Linked DNA regions of Homo sapiens: all the other regions are linked to region 1. Evidence: fine-mapped expression QTL. A gene starts in region 1. Each other region holds a variant in brackets. All regions are shown on one strand. Distances are between the middles of the regions.

Region 1 (7,504 bases):
CTTCTTATTGCCCCCACAGCGGAATCTTCTGCCTTGAAAAGAGAAAAGGAGATTTGTTTCCATGGACTAATTTTCCAAGGAGACCCTGGAAGACTCAAAATTCTTCCAGTCTCTCCTACCTCCCTCCTGCCAGTATCATCGCAGGGTCAGGCTTGGAGGCCACGTTTGACTGTCTCTATTTTATTTTATATTTTATTTTATTTTATTTTTTGAGACGGGGTCTTACTCTGTCACCCAGGCTGGAGTGCAGTGGTGGGATCGTAGCTCACTGCAGCCTCAAACTCCTGGGCTCAAGTAATCCTCCTGCCTCAGCCTCCCAAGTAGCTGGGACTATAGGTACATGTCACCATGCCCAGCTAATTAAAAAAATTTTTTTTTGTATAGATCGGGTCTCACTGTATTGACCAGGCTGGTCTTAAACTCCTGGTCTCAAGAGATCCTCCTGCCTTGGCCTCCTAATATGCCGGCATTACAGGCATGAGCCACCACGCCCAGCCTTCTCTCTCTTTATATAAGGCTGGACCATAGGCATTTAAGAACCTAAGTCAGTCAGTCAGTCAGCAAATATTTACTGGAGCAGATCCACGGTGGTCTGTTGGCATATCGAGAGTAGCAGCAGAGACTGGGCCATCATGGTGCCCCCAGCACAGCTGCCCGATGAACACCTGGAGAAGGATGGCAGCAACTCCAAAGTGGAGCCCCTTGCTTAGGCCACCTGCCTCCTGTGCCTATGTGATCAGCTGCCACCCGGCACTGCCCTCCGGGAGCTGCCACGGGCAACATGTGAAAATGGGGAGACCTGCAGGACTGTGGCCCGAGCCTTGGGGTGGGCTGGCAGTGGCACACGTAGAGAGAGCTGCCATGGGCAACACGGGAAAATGGGGAGACCCGCAGGACTGTGGCCCGAGCCTTGGGGTGGGGTGGCAGTGGCACACGTGCATTAGAAGTCCAGAGCCCACAGGTGTGCTTGCTGTATCTTCTTTCCATGGGTTGTGTTTTCTGTGTATTTTTCTTTGGGTTGGACCAAAACAAGTCAATGTGCAGTTATTAAGCTCCTGCTGTGTGCCCCTCGGGGCTTGAGGATACATAACTCTCTTTGTCTCCCCCAGAACACTCCGAGTCTGCACTGGACCGTTCTCAGAGCGCTGTCCTGACTGCCATGTCTTTGGATGCTAGCCCTAATCTTGTGAGGCAGGTGGGATCATCCCTATTTAACAAATGAGTTTGGGACCATGGTTAGCAGCGGGGGGCCTAGTCCCCCTGTCTGGCCCTCCGGTTACCCAGTTACCCCGTGGGTTTGCTCTCACTTCTGCGGCTCCTCCCGGGCCCACTGGAGGGTGCACTTGAGCAAGCAGGAACCTCACACTGTGCTCCCAGCGAGCCTGGCACCCCACCGGGCACCCATTCCCACATCCTGCAGTGGGGGGCGTGGTGGGGAGGCTCACCCCTCCCTTGGCAACTCCCGAAAGCCAGCCTGCTCAGCGGCCTTGAGAAGAGAGGTGCCCTGGTCAGCACCCCTTCCCTGGAGGCCACCCCACTTACTGAGGAGGATGAGGAGCCCCACGATGAAGGCCAGTCCAGCGAAGATCAGGCCCCCATTGCGAACGGTCTCATAGTCTCCGGAAAGAGAGGGCAAGAGGAGCGGGATGGGTGGTCTCTCCCAGCAGCTGTCTCTCTCCGCAGCCTGCCCGCAGCAGCCCGTGGTAACCAGGGGAGATAAGGGGCACAGAGCATGGACCTGGGGCTGGGAGAGGCCGCTGCTTGGTGGAAGGGGTCCTGAGGGCTCAGGAAGGGTGCGCAGGGGCCCAGGCTTACCATAGTAGAACGGGTCCACGTCCCCCTTGGGGCTGCCGCCTAGGAGAGAGCCAGAGGTGGGATGAGAGGAGTCACCGATGGTGAGCCAGCCACAGGAACAGCTGGAATTCCCTGTCCTTCCCTTCCCAGAGGACCCTCGAGGGTCCAAGCAGGCGAGGGGAGGCTGGGAGCAGGGGTGTTGCTAAAACCATTGCCAGCAGGCTTCTGCTCCAGGCGGCTTCAGACACGCTCAACTGGGGACCAAATACCGAGTGTCCGAGGGGGATCCGTGCTGTCTGGGGGGCCTCTGACCACTCCGGAAGGGTGGCTCTCTCCTGCTCCTTGATTCCTACCATGGTAGAAAAGGCCAGGAGAAGCCTCTCCCATTAGACTCCCAGCGGCCTCTCTCCACAGGACCATTTGGCTATCAGGTGCTTAGCAGCTATTTGGGAAATGCATGAATAAATAAAACAGAACCTTAAAGTTTATCAGACAGAAGGAGGAAGCCGAGCCCAATGTGTAGACTTGTTCAAAGTCCTAATGAAAGCTGAGACAGACCTCCTTTCCTGCGTTACCATCCTCAGGGGAAGCAGATCTAGTTAAGAAACATTAATATATAGTGCTGGTCAGGCACCGGGCAAAAACTAACAAACCCTAACTCATCTAACCATTATGGCAACCTTATGAGGCGTCAATGTCATTCTGGTGTAATCCACAAGAGGGTGGAAGTGCAGAGAAGAAATTCCCCCACAGTTATACAGCAAGTCAGGGGTAGAGCTGGTGTTTGAACCCAGGAAGCAGGGGGCTGAGAATGGAGGTGCATAAGCCCTTTGATCTGCCACCTCTCAATGGCGGGAGGGAAGGAGCCCGTTAGAGGTAAGGTCCTGCCCCTGCCTCTGGTGGCCTCCCCCGGATTTGGAGCCGCTCAGCAGGCAGGTCTCACAGTGGTGCCCTGCAACTGAGTACACTTGCCCCGGACAGCCAGACGGTGGCCTGGCCAGGACGCTTCTGCCACAGCTAAGGGCCGCTACTCTTTCCTGCCCTGCCGGAGCCCCTTCTCGCACGAGGGAAGTGGAGCCCGAGGAGGAAGGAACGCGCAAGTTAGCACTTTCCGGGCTGTGCCAAACTGTGCCCCTGAGCAGCAGTGAGACTTAGGGTCTGTCAAGCCCAGCTGTCCCCAGCGGCCAGTCCCTGGGCCAGGAAAGGACAGGCCAGGAAGAGTCAGTGCCCATCCTGACGGGCCTGAGGTGCTGGGTGCTCAGGGAGGCCATGAAGGACCCAGGTCCCACACAGAAGGCCGTCAGGGCTGTCTTCCCAGATTTGGTTCAGGCCTTGTTTAAGGTCATATGGGGATTTAAGTGTCAGAGCAACAGCTAGACGCCAGCTGAGGCTTCCCCACACGCCCCAGGAAACCTCCTCCTCCGTGGCCACCTGGCCCTGAGCCGCTTGCTGAGACCCTCCCTGCCCAGCACCCTCCCCTTTCTGCATCTGGCTCAAAACCCACCTCTGTCAGCAAGTGCCCCTCTTGGTTTCCAGGCCTGAGTCAGTTCCTGTGACAGGAAGCCTTTGGAGAGTGTGACTTGAACTTGGCGGGCTCTCACCCCAAATCCAGCCTAGGAAGGCTGACCAGAGGGGCCTGCTCCTTCCCCAGCCAGATGGACGCCGTCTGCCTCCCGCCCAAGTTCAGACGGTCTAGCAAGATGCATTGAACTCAGGGCGGGTGTGTGCCAGGAGGCCGAGGAGGAACGCTCAGCTCTCCAGCTTCTATCTGCTGCCTTTCTGCCACTCAAGCTATCTTTCTTTGGGGTTAAAGCAGGGTCCTCCTTTAAGTTGCAAATTTTCTTAGAGAGGAGGCCGACAGGAAGAGGGGCTGGGTACTCTGGAAGGCTGAGGTGGCAGGAGAGGGAAGAGTAGGGTCCAGCTGACCCCACAAAGGCAGGCCAATCAGAGCCACCCAGCATTGCACACGCCCGGGCACGCACACCAGCACACTCACCACCGTCCATCGACAACCCAGTCATTTCCCCAGGTGAATGGGCTGCCTCCACTCCCCTCTTCCTGCTGTCTCTGCTTTTTGGAGAGTGTCTGGCTGCCTCCACGGGGTGGCCGGGGACGAGGTGCGGGCATTAAACATTAACAGTGCCAGGTAATATTTACCCTGGTCACAAGAAAAGCTGCAGTGTGGATGGAGGGGCTCCTTCTGCAGGGTGAGGACGTGCGTGGGGAGGCAGGGGCAGGGAGGAGCTGGCTGAGTTTCCAAACCTTCCCAAAGGAAATTTCCAAAGAGAAGGGTTGGGATGGGTCAGCAGTCGTGCTGTTCTGCCAGCTGGGGAAGCTACAGCTGGGGCGGTGGGAACAGGAAAGTGGAAGTTGCACAATCTCTTCAGTGTACACTGTACTTGGGAGTTTCTGGGGGCAGTGGCCCACAGTGGCCCCCAGCCCAGGCAGGGCCCACCGCACCAGCCACCATGGATGCCGCCGCTGCAGCTGGTGTTCCTTATGTGGTACTGGAGGCTTTCCTGCAGTGGTCCCTAGGAGCCTGGCCCACTGCTCCCCCACCACATCCCTGGAGCACCGCCAAAGCTGACCAGCAGTAGATCCTCCAGAAGGGCCCTTCATCTGTCATCCTATTCACCCATCAACGTGCACCCTGCAGGTTACACCTCATTCAGAAGGGCTTCAGTCATCCCCAACTAATTTCTCCTTCCCTGCCGCCCTGGCACTTCCTCCTACCACCATTTGGCCTGGCTCTCGGATTGTGTCCTTGCCAGTTTACCATGGAGCATGCAGGATCCTTAAGGACAGGGCAAGACTTTCATCGTGGGGAAAACCCCCTGCGTTTATGGTTTACCAAGCACTTTCCTCACTGTTTTTTCTCCTCAAGCTTTATGTTTCCCATTTTACTGATGAGGCAGGTGTCTAAGGCACAGAGAGGTAGGGGCCTTGCCCAGGGTCACACAGCCAGTGTGGGGGAAGTGGAGACTGACAATCAGGCCTCCTGCTGCAGGAGGCAGATGCTTTCCACACCTCGCAGGCAGCCTCCCCACTCCGCTGTGACCTCCTTCGCCCCAGGACTCCTGTGCCGGGTAGTCACAGGTACTGTAGAATCCTCGTTGAGTTCTAGTCCATTGAATTGGCCTCCAGAAAAGGCTGAAGCCCAATGGCCACAAAACAGCCAAGGTCAGTGGCCAGCGGACAGCAGGGGAGCTTGAGCCCTTCTGAAGGGAGCCACTGTATCCATGAATCCTCCCCAAGCAGGGGCAGGGCTTGGCACTTGAGTTCACACCCTGGCCCTCTCACTTGCTAATGGTGTGGTCTCAGTCAATGACTTCACCTCTCTGTGCCTCAGTCTCCTCATCTGTAAAATGGGCGCAGTACCCAGCTCCTAGGGTGGTGGTGAGGGGAAGTGAGATAATGCATGCAAAGAGCATATCCCAGGGCCTGGCACACGGTGAGTGGCATCATTTTTACTGTTATATGTGTGTTGATTGAAGAAATGACAAGCATTAGCCTTTGGCAAATGTTTGCTGTTGGACATGGAAAAGCCAGCCACCCTCCAATGAAAATGGGCACGAATGAGTGAGACGGAGAGAATGGCATGGCCCTGCAGATCAGGCGCTGCAATACCCGTTCAGCTCCCTTCTGCTTCTGGAGCCAAGAAATATATATTCGTGCAAACATCACAGCAGAGCCAGCGTTTGGTGAAGATGGACCACGTGCCAGGCTCTTGGAATGCACTGCATCACTTAATTCCTACTAATGGCGTTTTACAGATAAAGAAACTTGAGGCTGCTCATTTGCTTTCCACAATAGCCCCTGGACGTGGCCAGGGCACTGGGTACACCAGAAAAAACGAGGGCAGGAAGGTGAAGGGACTTGCCTGAAACACACAGTTAATGGCAAACTGGAGGTAGAAAGCCCAGATCCTCCAAGATGTGCTACCAAAGCTACTGCCATCTCCACACAAGACAAGGGTGCTCCCTTTATTATACAGGATTGTGTTATCTTATTGCATTTGGTCTGTATTTGTAAGCCTCCATGGAGTCTTTCGGGAATAATAAGAGATGTAAAAATAAGTGGGAAGTTAAATAAATTCATCTGTCTGTCTGTCTGTCTGTCTGTCTATCTATCTATCTATCTATCTATCTATCTATCTATCTATCTATCTGTCTATCTATCTATCTATCCATTGACAACCCAGTCATTTCCCCACCCAAATGGACTGTCTCCACTTGCCTCTTCCTGCTGTCTTTGCTCCTTGGTGGGGTGGCTGGGGATGAGGTGGGGGCATTAAACATTAACAGTGCCAGGTAATATTTACCCTGGTCACAAACAAAGCTGCAGTGTGGATGGAAGGGCTCCCACTGCGGGGGGGAGGAGGTGCATGGGGAGGCACCAACAGATGGATGGATAGATAGATAAATAGAGAGATAGATAGATAGATAGATAGATAGATAGATAGATAGATAGATAGATAGATATGGATGATAGATCGATCAATAGATAGATGAATAGGAAGCAATAGGGAAAGCTAGTTGATGGCTACATTTTTAAACTCTGTGTGCAAGGCACCGTTTCAAGCACTTTACAGAAATTAATTCTTTTTTTTAAGACGGAGTTTCGCTCTTGTCACCCAGGCTGGAGTGCAATGGTGCGATCTCGACTCACTGCAACCTCCGCCTCCCGGGTTCAAGTGACTCTCCTGTCTCAGCCTCCTGAGTAGCTGGGATTAAAGGCATGTGCCACCAAGCCTGGCTAGTTTTGTATTTTTAGTAGAGACGGGGTTTCACCATGTTGGTCAGGCTGGTCTCGAACTCCTGACCTCAGATAATCCGCCCGCCTTGGCCTCCCAAAGTGCTGGAATTACAGGCGTGAGCCACCATGCCTGGCCAGAAATTAATTCTTTAGTCATCACAATGAGTTTTAGAAGGTAAAGAAGGCATTATTATCACCCCATTTCATAGAGGAAGAAACTGAGGCCCAGATAAGTTAAATAACTTGCCAGAGGTCAGATGGCCAGAGGGTAGGGGAACCAAGATTTCAAGCCAGCAGCCTGGCTTCTGAGTTCCTGCATCTCTAAGGGACGGATGGACAGACAAGTAAATGAGGCAGTTGGACAGCTGCCTTCCCAGCCCTCGCAGCTCAGATATGCTCTGCACACACGTTACAGCAGGCCAGTGACTCCGTATGGAGATGCTCTTTTTTGGAAATTCTGCCTCTCTTCCTTTCTGCTTTTCCTGCACTTCTGGGGAGCTTGTGGGTGCACTTGAAAGGGACGGGGCTGGCACCTGTGTTAGAGCCTGAGCAGGGAGGAGGAATGGGGCTCAGAGGACTCACCCAGGTACCACCTGTCCATGGCAGGAGCTGCTGGTTGTGTCCAGGAGTGCAGGAGAGCAGGGAGGTGCTGCTTGCCTGGGGCCTGGATGGAGAGTGGCACTCCCCCTCTTCACACTTCAGGTGAGCCCACAAACAGGAAGAGACACAGGGAGGGAGGAGGGGCTGGCAAAGGAGCCCTTACCTCGTGCCCACTTGCTGGGGCGGGTTGGGGCAAGGGATGCACGTGAAAGCCAGGGGAGATTTTCTGACCTCCACCTGGCACTTGAGGATGGGCAAGCTGTCAGATGCAGCAGAGCCAACCACAGCCCCCGCCCTGGCCCTCTCCCTCGAGGGGCTCCACACTGCAGCCAGCCCAGGGTGCCCGAAAAGGGTA
Region 2 (8,078 bases), 22 kb before region 1:
TCACTCCCAGGTTTTGCCAAAATATCCCTAGAAATTTTAACTAAATTTTGAAAAGTGTGTTTTTTAATATGTTAAAATGTACATAACATAAAATTTACCATTTCAACCATTTGAAGTGTACTATTCTGTGGCATTAAATACATTCACGATGTGCAACCATCATCACTTACCATTTCCAAAACTTTTTCATCATCCCAAACAGAATCCTGCACCCATTAAATAATAACTCCCCCTTCCCCTCCCCTCCCCCAGCTCCTGGCAACCACTATTCTACTTTGTCTCTATGAAGTTGCTTATTCTAGGTACCTCATAAGTGAGATCATAAAGTATGTATCCTTTTGTGCTTGGCTTACTTCACTCAGCATAATGTTTTCAAGGTTCGTCCTTTAAACGGGTGAGAAAATCGGGGCTTAACTTGTTCAAGGCCACCAAGGTTGTATCAGAAGCAAGACTAGAACCCAGGCCTCCCGACTCCAGAGCAGAGCTTGCTCTATAAGCTGCAGCATCCCTCGGTGGCTCAGCTCTTCATGCAAAATCACCACCCTGAAACAATTTGCAGGAGGTGTTTTGTCATCTGGAAACACAGGCATAGAACAGAGACGGGGGGACAGACTGCAGGGGGTGTTTGAGATGACCCAGACCGATCTTTTGCTTTACAGATAAGGAAACTGAGGCCCAGAGTGGGGAAGCCATGAGCCTTCCCCGAGGTCACGCAGGGAGTGACAGAGCCCTCACGTTTCCAGTCTTCTGTCTTAGCTCCCATCTCTCACCGCCCTCAGCCTGCTGGCTTATTCTTCTACCATGCCCCCTCCCTTCTAAAGGGAACGGTCATTGAGAGGAATCCAGTTATTTAAAACTAAGCCTATTGACCCAGAGCACCTGGTCAGGTCATGCCTAAAATAAACCGCTAAGGCAGACAGGATGAAAGGGGCTGCTGTCTGCTGGGAGGGGATCTGAGTGGGCCTGGGGTAGCGGCACAGCTGCTCCGTGCCTCACACGCTGGAAGTAGCGGTGGACCCTCTTCTTTGCATCCACCCCAAGTACCTCCTACAACCTGAGTGTAGGAGGCTTTATGCTAGTTATACACAGGGGGCTTTAAAGAACCACAACATGTGTGTTACCCGAAGGGCGAGGTCATTCATTGTGCCGGTGACTGCAGTCTGGCTGTCCCGGGAGGAGACATATACGTGGAAATAAACGGGTGGTCAGTTGGGGAGAGCAGACCTGGGGACCCCCTCTGGCAAAAGGAAGCTTTCTAATGTCATGGTTAAGAGCCTGGCTTTGGAAACAGCAGGAGATGAGTCCTCAGCCCAGCTCTGCCACTTGCCAGCTGTGTGCCTGGGAAATGTATGTGTGCCAAGCTGCAGTTTCCTTACCAGTGGAATGGGGACATCCCCAGCATCTGCCTTGGAAAGTCGTAGCGAGGATTAAATAAGACAAGCCCCATGGCTGACGCATAGTGAGCACAGGTAACTACCATGAATGGGAACAGCTTTGCTCACAAGGACCTTGACCTGTGGGAACTGGGAGGAGGGAACAGCTCCACTGGGGGAATGCTGGGACGATATTGTGCCTTCCATGCTGTGACAAAGCCAGAGCCAAGGAGCTGGGAATCCAGGAAAGGGGCTGCAGAAACACGGAAGGTGCACACTGAGGCGGAAGAGCCTGGAGAGATGGCTAACAAAAGAAGGACCTGAAAAACAGGCAGGTCAGGCCTCATGCTTTTTGTGTTTCCCATTGATTTTGTTCTTCCTTAGTATCTAGGGAAATGTCTTTGAAAATGACAGGTTGGCTCAGATGTATTTAGAAGTCTCCTCTTCGACAGGAGTTGTATTGGGGTGGGCAAGCCAGCATGCCAGGAAATCCCAAGGGAAAAATGAAACGCCGGGGAAGAGAGTCAGGCGGCGTGTTCTACCCCACGCCCACCTTAAACCCTGACAGTCCCCTCCCCAGCTGACATTTTAGAGGGGCTATATTTTGATAGAAGGGACAGTTCCCAAAATTATATGGAAAACTTCACACCCACACACAAATATATTCATGCCAGAGTGAGAACAAACACAGTTGCCCAGGCAAACATTCATGTGTACAGGTAAACATAAACACCTAATGACAGGCACACCTGTGCTTCAATGTGATTTGAACCCAATCCAGAAATTCTGCATTGGCACCTATGCATATGCTCCATTTTTTTAAGCCTCAAATTTGTGGGATTCCTTTCTAGTAGGGACACACTACCCATTTAAAAGCAGTGATCAGTTTTAATATTTTCTTGCATCAGAATGCTGGGTGATGATCTGTCTGTATTTTGGCTTTTGTGCTTTTGTTTTTGTTTTTTTTAAACAATGCCAGTTGAAGCAGCTATATGAAGTCACTGGGAGCTGAGCCCTCTCCAATTCAGGTTAATCATGGATATTTAGGGGGTATTATTTTGCCATGTTATATTAAGACTAGAGCCATCCTGAGAAACAGCAGATGTTTTTATTGTTTAACTCAAACAATAAGCTTATATATTTTGGATACTTTTCTTCAAAAACAAAGGCATAAAATTATTTTAACAATGGCTTCATATGCCCTCTGGAATTCTTTGACAACTTGAGTATAAACAGGGTTTTCATAAAAGGAATCAATACTGAACCAGGTCTGTGTGAAAAACTTAACTTTTGGTATTATATAGCTAATTCAAGATTGACCTTCTTAGTACTTACTTATCAGTTGGGGGAGGAAAAAACAAGGATCTCCCTGCTTCCCTCCCCAAAATTTATAATTGATTTTAATATTATAGAAAGAGTTCTCATCTACAAATCAGAAATCCTAGGTTCTTGTGTCACCTCTGTCTCCATAGCCAGCTGTGTTACCTGTGACAAGTCACCTTGCCTTTCTGGACCTCAGTTTCTTCACCATTGAGGTGAAAGAGCTGGGCTGGAATGATCACCAAGATCCCTTCCTAGGACCAAACACAAGGTAAATGCAAACAAATATGCCCATTCCCCCCTCCTACCCCACATAGGTGTATAGTGTGTACCCACAAATGTGTGCAGGCAGAGAAACAGAAGCTTTTATGCACAGATATTCAGAAACTAATAGGCACAAAAAATTACACAAAATAAACAGTTTTGGCTTCAAATATATACACATACATCTAAAATACCATCTTCTTGAGATGAGATGAATCAGTACAATTCATAGACTGTGATGCCTATATATAAAAAAATATTATGTGTCATTATACTACCCAGGTTCTCCTTAAACCAAAATTCTGTCTGCTGGGCTCAGAAGATGTCTAGGTATGCTTGCCACTTACTCTCTCATCATTTTGGATGATAATATTATGGCTCTAAGATCACTGGAGCAAAGGGTCTAAAGCCCTGGGGCTCCG[C/A]CTGTACAGATGCAGTCTCTGGGGTCCCATTGCCCTTGTTCAGGCTGCTGTCTCAGCAGTGACACCAGGATGGTTGGTCAGGGGCTGCGGAAGCCCCCAGCAAGGCAGGAGTCCCCTGAATAACTGTGGCCTCTCTCCTGCTGTTCTTTCTCAGCTCACAACTCTGAAATCGGTTGAGAAGCCAACCCAGAGAGGTTCCATGTAGTCCGGATTCGACAGAGCTGAAGCTCATTGTCACATTTCTCTCTGGGGAGCAGTGGGGTGGAAGGTATGGAAACTAAGAGAGATAGGAAAAAAAAGAAAGTGCAATGAGCAGAGCTAAACTTGCTGGCTTCCCAAGTCTTCCGGCATTTCTTCTGGCCCATGTGTCACTCACAAATGTGCTTATCAAATTTTATGAAAGTGTCTTCTACACTGGAAAACCTTCACCTTTCTCAAGTACCCAGTGCCCCCCTTTTTCACCTGTTTAAGGCTTCCCATTCAGCAGGGCCTGGTCAGGCACCCCCAGTTTTCCCTGACCAGGCCTCCTCTGGTCTCCCACTGCCTCAGACATCTACTTGGCCCATGGGTCTCATCCCTTTGTCTAGAATTGTGGCTATTTAGGCATGTGTCTGACTTGTCTCCTCTTCTAGACACTGGGCTCCGACCCTTTCGATTTGTACCTGCAGGCCCTAGCCTGGTGCCTCCTGGCTCTAGGGGTACACTCAGTAAGTGTTGATTTAATGACCAGATGGGCTCATTCTTATAAGGTAGCAGATATCTGATTACAGCCTCACGTGCCATGCCTTCCAGAGAGATGTCCCTTAACTAGGATCAAAGCCTTAAGCTTGAAAGTTCTCGTATTGGAGTTTCTCGTCTCTAAGAGTGAGCATTTGGCAGGACATTAGACCCCGCAGGAGTGCTGACCCCTAAAACCAAAGAAGTCTCAGCAGTTCCTGCTGAGCCCGCATCACTGTGGTCTTCACAGTTGTCATCTTGACCTTGTAGGCAGCGCCTCTAGGTTCCAGAGGCTTTATGTTTTCGTCCATTTCTGATTCTCACCTAAAAGGATCTGGATACATATGCCAGAATTGTTTTGATCATTATATAGATGAAGACACAAAGTCAGAGGAGTCCCAGAGGCATATTTGGGATGTTTAATACCATGACACTTACACAGCTCAAGCTTCAGATTCCTTTAGGGCCCTAGTAATGTGTTCACATGGTCAGATATGAAAACACTGTAGAATAATAGAGTTTAACTACTGTCAATCACAGCTGCTACCCTTTTCTGCTCTGGCTTCTCGGTGGGTCTGGTGAACATTTTGGGGGGATCTGACTCTGGCTTGGGATTGGTGGAATGTATTTATATGGTTCACAGGCCATGCACGTACTTCCAGGATAGGGAATGGCTTGCAGGAACACTCCTATCACCGACTGGGCCAGCTCACTGCGCTTTGTGACATGAAGTTGCAGAACCAGAAGTTGTATCACAGTATAACTGTGGCCTCAGGTGCCTGCACCAGGGGTGTGTGTGTAGCATAGGAAAGACAAGGTTTGAAATGCATGGAGCCAAAAGCCAGCTTATGTAAAGCTGTGAGCAGAAGTAACGTAAAAAAATTTTTTTTAATTTAGAAAGCATTTTTGAGGTGTGTCAGTTAATACAAATATTATGTTATCTGTCTGGATTTCATGATGGCATTTGTCAGTTTTTTCAAGATTTGTAACTTGTTGCAATTTCTTTTTATCTTTCTAAATTAATAATCACATTTGATTATTAATATATTAATGATCATATTTGTATCTAATTTTGTATTCATAATTGTGTATTGTTTTCCTTAGTGAGGCCTAAGCTTCCAGCCCTCAATGGTCTAAGCTTCCAGCCCTGCAAAACCTGAATCCGTCCCAGGAACTTTCCTTGGGTTACACTGTGGCTGGGGACCAGGTTCTCTGGATTCTGGTCAGGGCTCCCCGCTTGCCTCAGAGGTCTTAAGTCTGTATGTCAATCATGTATTTGTACAGTGCTGTTCACACAGAAGCCCCCTTGGAGAGATTTTCCTCCCCAGAGAAGAGAAAGTCAAGGCCCAGGCCCATGGTGGTGACCTTGACTTAGATGATGAAAGTTCTCTTCCTAGAAAGTCTGCCCATTTCACCACAGGCTGGACTTGCCAGTCCATGCGCTGGAGGATCTCAGGATGGGAGACAACTTGGTGCTGCCGTAACGCCTTCCACGGTCTCTCTGCAGGGCAGCATCCCTCCTGTCACTGTGACTGGCCACCAGCATTGTGGACCGAGACCCTCCTCAAAGTCCAGGAGTTGCTACAAAACACTAGCAAGTCCTCCAGCCACTCTGAGCAGGAGAAATGTGCGGCCCAGAAATTCCACCTGCTGGAGGCCAAAGCCACGGCTCCTGGGGTGCCCCAGTGGTGAGTGGGCTGCAATTTGGGACAGTGAGGCTGAACAAAGACATTGCCTGGAGACCACGGGGAATGTTGGCCCCTCAGTTACAGAATCTGAGAGGGGGCAGTGCCTTAGAGCTCAGCTCACCTGGCCCCATCTCATACCCACTGGCTTTCTACACCGACCCAACAGGTGTCAACTCAGTCTCTCAAATGCTGCCAGGGAAAAGGGGCTTGCTCCCCACACAGAAGTTTATCTAATTTCACTGTCCACAGTCATGTACACATGCTTTTCTTTATCAAGCCCAAATCTGCCTTAGCTTTCTGGAGTTCAAAAGATGTGCCCAATCTGGACAAAATGACAGCTATTCAAATATTCAAGAACTGCTACCGCAGGCCCCCACACCTTCCTTTTGCCAGGCTACGTATCTTTTTTCTTTTCTGACATAATTTCTAGACCTTTCCCTATTCTGGTTTCCCTCTTTGCTTATATTCAACTTTAGCAATATCTCGTCCGGGCATGGTGGCTCACGCCTGTAATCCCAGCACTTCGAGAGGCTGAGGTGAGAGGGTCACTTGAGCCCAGGAATTCAAGACCAGCCTGGACAACACATGGAGACCCATCTCTACAAAAACATTTAAAAGTAGCCAGGCACGGTGGTGCATGCCTGTAGTCCCAGCTACTCGGGAGGTTGAGGTGGGAGGATCTTCTGAGCCTGGGAGGCTGAGGATGTTAGTGAGCTGTGATTGTACCACTGTGCTCCAGACTGGGTGACAGACTCTGTCTCATAAAAGAAAAAAAAAATCTCTCTTAAAACAGAATAGACTCATGAATCCGGATGAGGTCTGAGCAGCTCCAGTCCAGCGCCATCACCCCCTCAGTAGGTAGCTGATCTTCTCTTACTGTTGTCCAATGTTTTGTTGGATTTCCTGGGCTGACATGCCAATCACTCTGGACCACTATCCCACGAACTTCTACTGAACTGGCCTCCTTGGCCTGTAATCCTGATGTGGATTATTTGAGAGAAAACATGATCCCATTCATCATTTGGTGAAAGTTGGGAAATGGGGTGTTGCCTGGGTCAAATGGCACTTACTTACACAATGGGTGACTCAGAATGTCATCTAAGGTCCTAGCCCAGCCCCAGTGAGGGTGGCAGAGCTCAGCTAAGAATGCAGCAATAAGGTTCCCATTTCAGGCCACAATGACATTGAAACCCAGCATCTTTACCAAACTTGACCTTATTTTTGATAAATCCAGCAGAAAACAGAAAAAGATCTAACATAGCATTTCACAAGTGTTTCATGAGAAGGTAATAGGTAAGGTGCAAAAACTGATCTATGGTCAAATAGGTTTGGAAAACAGTGGAATAATCAAAGGTAAATAGGTTTTTGTGGGAGTTGTTTTTGTTTTTGTTTTTTACTGCAGGCTTTAACACGCTGGTGGGCATTGTCAATCTCCAAGTGCTACAGTATGAGGTTTTGGGGGATCCATTTCCCACTTCTCCTGGTTAAAAACTCTGTTCTTTCACTGTTTCTGGTCCACACCTGGCCTAAAGGAAGTACATTTTGTTGGTTTACTCATTCTTTTGGCAACTCTGTGCCCAGCCCCTGTGCAAGGAGTTCCCCGATCCCTGGAAAGTCTAGCACAGAGTCCCTGCCCTCAGGAAGCTTGCATTCCAGTGGAGTAGAAGATGTTTAAAGAGCAACACAGGGAAGCCTACATGCTCAGAGTCAGCAGGTCAGAGTGTGAAGGGACCTGGGGAGCATCTCCTGCAAGTGCCTAGGAAACAGTGGCTGGCAGGTGAAGGGCGTCCCAGGTCACATGGCAGAGTCAGGGCTTAGGTCCAGGGCTCCTGACCGCCTGGCCTGCGCTCAGCTAAGTGGTGTTTACCTCCCTCCTAGGCCCTGTTGCCTTCAGACTCTTGCCCACCTTGTTCACCACTCCATCCTCAGTACCCAAGGCAGGTCTTTGATGACTGTTTGTCGAATGAAGCTATGATGATGTGGCTGGGTTGGATGATCTTTACAGTCTCACCTAGGGCAAGGGGTTCGATAAGTCTGTGAAGAGAGCTGCTTAAGCTCAGAGAAAGGAGTGGTCAGTAAAAACCAAGGTAGGATGTGAGTTGGGCTTGAGCAATGGGAAGGATATGCAGAGAGGCAGGGAAAAGGCCTCCCTGCAGGGGCTCAGGAAAGCCTGACTCTATGGTGTGTCTACCCATCTGAGACACCCACACATCTGGCACATGGCAGTTCAGAGCTGTGTCCTCAAAGACTCATCGGTCCAAACTCTGAGCTGAACTGGCGGGCTAATTGTTTGT
Region 3 (8,078 bases), 33 kb before region 1:
GTTGGACGAGTTAATATATATGAAGAGCTTGGGACAGTTTCTGCTTTATGTAAGTGCCTGGCACCACCTAAGTATTTGTGGCTGTTGTTACAAGCATTATCATTATAGCAGGCAAGCAGTAAGTATTTGTGGGAAAAGTGAATCCTTGTGCAACAAATATTTACTGCTCACCTCTGATGATAATAATAATAACCTAAAACCGTGGTTCTCAAACATCAGTATGCATAAGAATCACCTGGAGAGCTTGTTAAAAATGCAGAGCCTTAGATAACAGATTCACCAAGTCTGTCATAGGGCCAGAAATTCTATTTCTGAGACTGGTGTCCTCTGTCTATACTGAGAGTAACAGTCCTTTGGAAAAGTAGATTTGCCATCCTGGACTTCTATACTTCCTTTCCCAACGACAGACAATTGTCATCTGCTTGGCTGACAAGACCCTACCACCACATTAATTAACTTAATTTGGAGATCAAGATAAGAAAACAACAGTGGTAGAATCAATAGCAACAGAGCATTGCAGTAGCCACACAGCTTTTGCTAATTCCCAGGCCTTACGCAGAGTTCTTCATGCAGATGTGAGCTGGAGAGGTTTCTTGGATTGATTTGCAAGGTTGATTACTTCACTGTATTTCCACACAAAGGTTTTCATGGGAGATGTGTTATGTGCCCTCACTCTGATTGTTCTCATCCCAGAGTTGGAAAAATTGGTTCTAGAGAGGATCAACCAGTAGGGTGATCCTCCCACCGGCTCACCCACCAAGTCCATTCAAAACCCAGAGGAGGACCAGCCAGACGGTGTCTTGCTGCTTCACTAAAAACCCTTTATGTTGCATCTTGGAAACTGTCTGAGCCCAGACACTGGCAAGGAGAGGGTTGAGTTTCCCAGACAGCATCAGAGCATGTACCAGGCAGCCTGAGCTGGTATGGTCCTTGGACAAGAGGAAGCAGCGGGCCAAGTCCCATGCTCTCTGCCTGTGATGTCCACCCAATCTGGCACACCTGCTCCACCACTACCTTCCCCATCACAGTGCCATCTTTTGGTTTTTTTGGTTTGTTTTGTTGTTGTTGTTTTGTTTTTGTTTTTGTTGTTGTTGTTGTTGTTTTGAGACGGAGTCTGGCTCTGTCACCCAGGCTGGAGTGCAGTGGCACCATCTTGGCTCACTGCAACCTCCACCTCCCAGGTTTGAGCGATTCTCCTGCCTCAGTCTCCTGAGTAGCTGGGATTACAGGCGTGCACCACCACGCCTGGCTAATTTTTGTATTTTTAGTAGAGATGGGGTTTCGCCATGTTGGCCAAGCTGGTCTCGAACTCCTGACCTCAAGTGATCCGCCTGCCTCGGCCTCCCAAACTGCTGGGATTACAGGCATGAGCCACCATGCCCAGCCCCATCATTTCTTTGTAGCATTTGTTTTGTGCCAGGCATGGTGGGAAGCCTTTTTCTTGCATTATTGCACATGTAATTCTTACAACAGCCCTTGGATGTAGCTACTACTCAAGACTCCATTTTACAGATAAGAAGACAGGCTCTTAGGTCAAATAATTTCTTGGTGTTGCACAGTTCGCAGTGGCAGAGCTGCATTTCACATCTTTATGCCAGGATGTGTGGCTCAGCAGGCACATGACAGGCTAGATTCAGACCATCCCCATGGTGTGAGCACACTGTGGGGGGATTTTCTGACAAAAGAGATCAATTGGGGTATGATAATTCAGAATTACCTGGGAATCTCCCTGTCATTAGACATTCCATCCCTCCCCCAACTAAACGCCAGCAGCTCCCCACCCTAGTCATTGAGATGACCAAAAAACGCTCCCCATTTCCAATCCCCATGCAAAGCACAGCTCAAGTGTCCTCCCTGTGTCCATCAGAAACATGGGTGGTTTTGCTGTTTGTTTTTAAGATTCTTAGCACAAACATGGTTTCTGTGACCAGCAACCAGAAACCTGCGAGGTCCAGTGGAGACGCAGCTATCCTTCAACCTCCAAGGCCCTGTGCCATCAGCTCCAGGAGAAGTTATGAGCAACAGCTGACTGTCGGACAGACTCTTTAATCTTCCAGCCCTTTCTAGACAGGGCCTGTCAAAGGAAGGTCCCTTATGGCCAAAATTTCTTTCCAGGGAGTCAGCTCAGACAGCACAGTTGTCCCCAGAGAATCCTAGATTTAGATTGTTAATGCTTGAGGGACTTAAGAGATTATTTTTTCCAATCTCCTCCATTCACAAGGCCTAGAGAGGTGGAGTCATCTACCCCAGGGACACAGCTCACCAGCATCCCAGCTGGGGCTACAGTGCTGTCTCCAGTGTTCTCTCAGTTCTGGCCACCCTGCTGTCAGAAAACTAGCCATTGTGGAACTCAGGAGCACCATGAAGCACCGAAACGATGTCATTCGAGGGTGTATCAGAGCAACTAGGGATGCTGCGTGTCCAGAGCAGGGGCCTCAGATGGGCAGGACATCTGCCTATCACAGTCGCAGGGCTGTCAAGTGGAAGAGGGCTTTGCCTTGCTCTATGTGGTCCAAGCGGTGACATCAGGACCAGTGAGTAGAAGGTCCAAGACCACAACAGGGTTTGACTCATTCTAAGGATGAGCTCTGTAATAGTCAGAGCTGTGTGGCCAGGAATGGGCTGCCTTGCAAGGAAGGAGTCCCTGTTGCAGGAAGTGCTAGTGAAGACAGAAAAAGACACTGGGTGGGAAAGCTGCAGAGGGAGTCAGCCTCTGATTAGGGGACAGATTCCACAGCCTTAAAGATGCCTTCCAACCCTGCAAGACTTTTACCCAAGGTGATCACCTGAATCTCCCTCTCCCACCCCCAACGCAGGGGTCCTATCCTCTCTCATACCCCACGACTGCGGGAGGGTCACCCTAGTAGCAGGGTGTCCACCAGTCTCGACTCGGCAGAGTTTTCAGAGATTCCAGTGAATACTGTGACCTTAAATGAGGTCACATAAGATGGGACTGTGCCTACTGCTCTTCCCACAAAAGACTGTGGATTCCCTGCAGGGAGAATGTCCCTTTGGGGGAGTTGGTCCAGAGGACTATGGACTACACTTGCATCTAAGAACCTTGGAGGGGAATGGGAGGAGGGAGAAGAGGTAGGCTTCCTCCCACTCCCACTACCACTGGGGCCTCAAGGGATCTGCCAAGTTTGCTCCAGGAAGACTATTGCCAGCCTGGCTGTGCCTCATCAGCTGTTCCCCATGATGCTGAAAAGCAAAGCTAGGAAAATTCTCCATATGTTGGGGCCCACGGAGGGGGAGACAGCCACAAACAGCTGTGAGACCTTCATCGTTCCTGTATGATGAAATGACAGTAATTATGCCTCACATTTCAGCAGAGCATTTATAAGGCTAAAACGGGTTTGCTGTGGTTTTTACATGTGTGTGTTCATATGTTGCCTCATTCTGTATACAAAGCACTGTCACATGATGTACATTTTTATGCCTCTTATTCTTATTTATGCACATATACAGTAACAACTGCTCTGTAGGATAGCCAGGACGGGGGTAATTTTGCCCATTTTACAGATTACGAAATAAAGGCACATGAACCATTAGGCAACTTGCCCAGGTAAGACAGGCTGAGCTTTGTTTTTTAGGTCCATGGATAATGTTCTTTCCAACACACAGACACACATACACACATGCACGTGCAAACACACATGCATCTCTTTAGAATCAGTTTAATGGATATGCAACTAACTAGCATTTGAATAATTGTTGTTAATGAAGATGGTGACCTTGGAAACTGTTAGTGCAAGCATCATGTAGAGACAGGGCACAG[G/C]GAGTGGGGCAGGGCAGCTGAACGAATGAGGGGAGTAGCAGCTGGAGTGGCATGGGTGGTCCCCAAGGCTAATGCTGTTCACTCTAAAGCAGCACAGGACAAACATCTGTTTAACAAGGCACACAGGCTGTGGAGCCCACAGCCTCCCCAACATGTAGGATCCCACAGGCCATGGCCTGCCATAGGCAGCACTTGACCTCTGGGTTACATGCTGCTTCCCTGTGACAGACTAGGTCATGGAAGGAAGAGCAGTCCCAAGGTCACAGGCTGCCAAGAGTGTTCTCTATATGCAAAACTGCCTGAAAAATAGAGGTTCATCTCAGCAGGGAGAGACACAGAAATACATCCAGCAACAGTTATGAGGGCTCCCTCGCTTTGTGAGGAGTGCTTACGCAGGCTTTATGGCATGAACTCCAGAATAGTTCTTACTCTGGCCAACCGTGGTAGAGATTTAACAACCAACCCCAGCCTTCCTTTGGCAGATATGAGACCAACCTTTGCCTCACCTCAAATCCAAGTCTGGAGCCAACTTCAGCCCTCTTCATTTCCACTGATGGCCAGGGGAAGGAAGTGTGCTGGGCACCCCAGGGACACTCAGGTGACCACATGGCCTCAGCCATGTGGAGTCCTACATGCTATCCAGCTAGGTGACGGATGGAAGGAGTTGACGTCCCCTGTCCTGGCCACTACTCTGTCTTTCTTATTGTTATAAAGTCTAAGCCAACTGGCTTGGCCAAAAATGTGGCTGATTAATTCAACTGCTTAGGGAAGGATCTGATGATGCATTCTGGAGAGGGGGCAGGGAGAGGAAGGTAGAGGCAATGCAGAGGAAAAAGTAGAGGTCTAATGTTTATTGAGCACTAACTATGTTCTGGCTACTTGATATGCATTATCTTCTTTAATCTCATTTCATAGCTGGAGAAAGTGGGGCTCAGAGAGGCCCAAAGTCACATGGCCAGTAAGTGCAGAGCCAGGATGTGAATGAAAGATTTGCCTTGACTCCAAATTTCTACCACACCAGTGGGTTGCAACCTTTCTTATTTTTCATTCTACTCCAATATATGAAATTGGATAATGAATAAAAGCTCTGGTTGAAGCTCTGCCCTCTGGCCCTCCCCCTCTCTACCTCTGTCCATCCCCTGAGGCTCCACCTCACCCCTTAGGCCTCCATACCACATCTCTTGGAAACCTCTGTGGGCTCTGGTGGGCCAGGCCCCTTCTGGATCAGTGGATATGCAGAAAAATAATCTGGGAAGGCTTTGGAGCTGCACCTGCCATAGTAGTATCCTCTCAGGGCCCTGGAAATGCAGACAAAACCATTCCCGAGGCCACACTCCCACTGCAGCATCCCAGCTGGCTCGCTGGGAGGGGCCACTCAGCTCTCCTGAAGTGCTCACTCCTCAAGCATCACTCCAGGCTCTTGACACGCCCTTCCCTCAGTGACTGTAGTGCCTGTCCTCCCTCTGCCCCGCCATAACCAACCCACATACCTGAAGCTGCCCTAGGGGAGGTGGAATGAGAAGCTGGTGCTATATCTTTCATCTCTCTGAAGCCACGACCACCTCCCAGGCTAGGTGGTGACAAACCAGGAGGGTGAAAGAGCATTCTGCCTCACTTCACACCCCCATGCCATCAGCAACTACCTCACTACCTGCTGATGGCAGCCCTAGGCACCCAGCTCCCTGCATTCTAGGGGTGCACCCACCAGGAATCTAATGCGGGCCCTGGATTTCTATAGCTAGTTTGCCCCTCTCTTCACCCTCTTCTTCCTGCACCATGAGAGGAGCAACCCACATCCCAAGTTTGGTCTACCTTACGGTGTCTTGGCCCATTGCTACCCATCCTACCCCAATATCCCCAGTGCCACTGTCTGTCCTTGGATAGGGGTGGTGGGAGCTCTGGGGCTGCCTTGCCAGATGGTGAAGCCAGTGCTGAGCACTGGAGGCACATATGGAGGCAACAAAATGTAGGAGACAGAAGCATTACCAACAGCAGTCCTTCTCCCAGCTCCTTCCCCACCCCCTTCCATGCAAGGAGGAAGCCAATGACTGGCTGCTACTGAGGTTGAGGTCAAGATGCTACTCACAGAGGGCACAGCTTTTGGCCTGGCTAGGTGAGCATGCAAATCCATATGCAGATTATATGCAAATCTGGGGTGTGCCCTTGGGTTCCTGGCACCCTGCCATCGCTGCTGCCTGTAGCTCACCCTATTCATGCACCTGGGTACCCGCTAGAATCGACTGGGCTGGGAGCTGAGAAAGTGCTTCAGGAACTAGGGGATCTTCTCTTGACTACTTCAGAGGTCCCCCAGAAAACAACTCCTCCAAGATCACGGAGGAGGGAAGAAGCTCGCAGCCTGGAACTCGTATCCCTGCAGAAAAACTCTCTGAGCATCTGCCCTCCCCTCTCTTCATCTACAATTAAATCATCCTTCACCAGCCAGAGCAGGGTACCAAGCAAGTGGCAAGTGGCAAGGATGTGTCTTCTCTAAGACACAGAGAAGGTCAGGAAGGCTTGAGGTCTGCATCCCTCTGTCATAGGCTAACAGTCCATGGGGTGCTCTGGACAGACCTTGACCCTGTGTCTGGGGGCTCCTAGCCAGCCTGTTTGGGGCCTGCTTCCCTACCAAGCTCTCCCTGGGCCAAAGCCCTGTCTGCTTGCTCACATCCTCTCTGATCCTCATCCTAAGAAAACTAAGCCTCTCTGTCCAGTCCCCCGGGATCTGTTCAACTTAAGCGCCGCCTTTGGGTCTACTGCTTACTTGTTTTTTGTTTCTAATTAGCTCCCCCATTCTACTGCAGAAATATATTAAAGGCAGCTGGCTTTGATGCCCAGAAAAACGAAGCGTCGGAAAGGCTTGTCGGGCATCATGGCCCTGCCAATCTCCCTCATGTTATTCTAGCAACCGGGGTCTCTCTGCCACTCAGCCCCTCCCCAGTATTCACTGGCCCTTCGCCTGCCTCCCCTAAGTTGCGTTTGCCATTTCAAGATTTTAAAAACACATTTCCCCATTGCCCCCCCCCCCTTTTTTTAATTAGACACTGAACAGAATGTTGGAGATTTTCTTAATGCCCTGACGAAGGCTTTTAATTTGGTCTTCCCAAGAGAGAAGAACCATGAGTCCCCATCGGAGAAGTTGGGGTGGGAAATGAAAAAATCAATGCAATCCATTATTTTGGCTTTTAGAAAACAGGAATTTTAGTGCCGGGGAAGCTTGTTCTTTTACACAGTAAAAATGCAAATGCAGGCAACACAGATGCTGGCACGCTGGATGGAACAACGGAGAGCGCCTCGCCGGGGTTCATCCGGCTGCCTAAACCTGGATTTGTTTTGGCAATAATAAGGCAGTTATTGGAGACTCGATAACCGATGATTAAAACACCTTCCCAGTTTAGTTCTGGGGAATCAGTCTGAGCTCAGGCATCATAAAAAAAAGGTATTTTGAGAGGAATGGAAATAACAGAAGCTTAAAACACATTCAATAACTGCTTAATTCCATCCAAAGGATGCTCCATCTCATCCTGTTTTCTTCTCTCTCTCCCTGCCTCCTCCCGCTCCTCACAGATGGACGTACAAATTATTGCAAGAGGATATTGTTTTCTGTAACAGGCTCGAACATTCACATTTACATTTTCCTTGGTGCCGCGGGGGTGACTGGCAACGGGAGAGAAAATACTCCAAACCCCATCTTTCTTGCTGTCTCCGCATCACATCTTCCCCCAAGCCGCCTCTGCCACCCCCTACCACGCCACCCCAAGCAGAACAGGCCCCAGGGACCAGCCTGGCACCTAAGACCCAATTAAGGCACCAAGGAAAAGAAAAGCCTGTCTGGCGAGGCACCCTGGCGCCCAACAGACAGACGCTGGAGCCTCTGAATCGCAGGGGCACCGGGCTCTGCAGACCCAAAGGCCACCGAGGAGCCGCCACAACTGGCATCTCCAGCCCGCCTACAGGTCCAAGGCCACTGGCAACTTCCATCTCGAGTTGGACAAGATTTTGCCCCTTGGCTGTCCTGTTGCCTTCTGGGCCTTTCTCCACCCCCAACCCCATCTGCTCCCGCCCTATCAAATAGCTCGGCTTCATTTATTAATGCCAGGCTCCTGGAAGGGGGAGGGGAGTGTCCTTCAGGTATTTGCTGAGGGGCCTCCTGCACTCCCCGGGAATGGGCTGTCCTGGAAGATGTCTCCAGAGAGTGTTGTGGAGGCATGGGGGAGTTGGGGACAAAGCCGGGCTAGAGTGTGGCAGCGGCTTCGGCCTGTGCTTTCTCGCCTGACAAATTGCGAAAGGGGATGGGGGTTGG

What was found. PIP is the estimated chance that this variant, and not a neighbour inherited with it, causes the effect.
Region 2: its variant is the best candidate, but not a certain one, in a credible set for the expression of FXYD2 in ileum (GTEx, PIP 0.82).
Region 3: its variant is the best candidate, but not a certain one, in a credible set for the expression of FXYD2 in lung (GTEx, PIP 0.57).

Annotation. Positions count from the first base shown.
Region 1 is chr11:117,820,864-117,828,367 of GRCh38, forward strand. FXYD2 (FXYD domain containing ion transport regulator 2) reads right to left here and starts at 3,881. Exons shown (of 6, transcript NM_001680.5): 1 at 3,791-3,881; 2 at 1,816-1,854; 3 at 1,543-1,617; 4 at 1-32. The coding sequence starts at 3,815. FXYD6-FXYD2 (FXYD6-FXYD2 readthrough) reads right to left here. Exons shown (of 10, transcript NM_001243598.4): 7 at 1,816-1,854; 8 at 1-32. The coding sequence ends at 5. RefSeq lists enhancers at 1,405-1,958, 3,621-4,174, 4,175-4,727.
Region 2 is chr11:117,798,380-117,806,457 of GRCh38, forward strand. It overlaps a transcript of DSCAML1 not described here. Among named protein-coding and RNA genes, the nearest start is that of DSCAML1, 5.2 kb to the left of the region's middle. The variant C/A (reference allele first, on the strand shown) is at 3,380.
Region 3 is chr11:117,787,241-117,795,318 of GRCh38, forward strand. The region is part of intron 1 of DSCAML1 (DS cell adhesion molecule like 1); the gene reads right to left. Among named protein-coding and RNA genes, the nearest start is that of DSCAML1, 5.9 kb to the right of the region's middle. The variant G/C (reference allele first, on the strand shown) is at 3,779.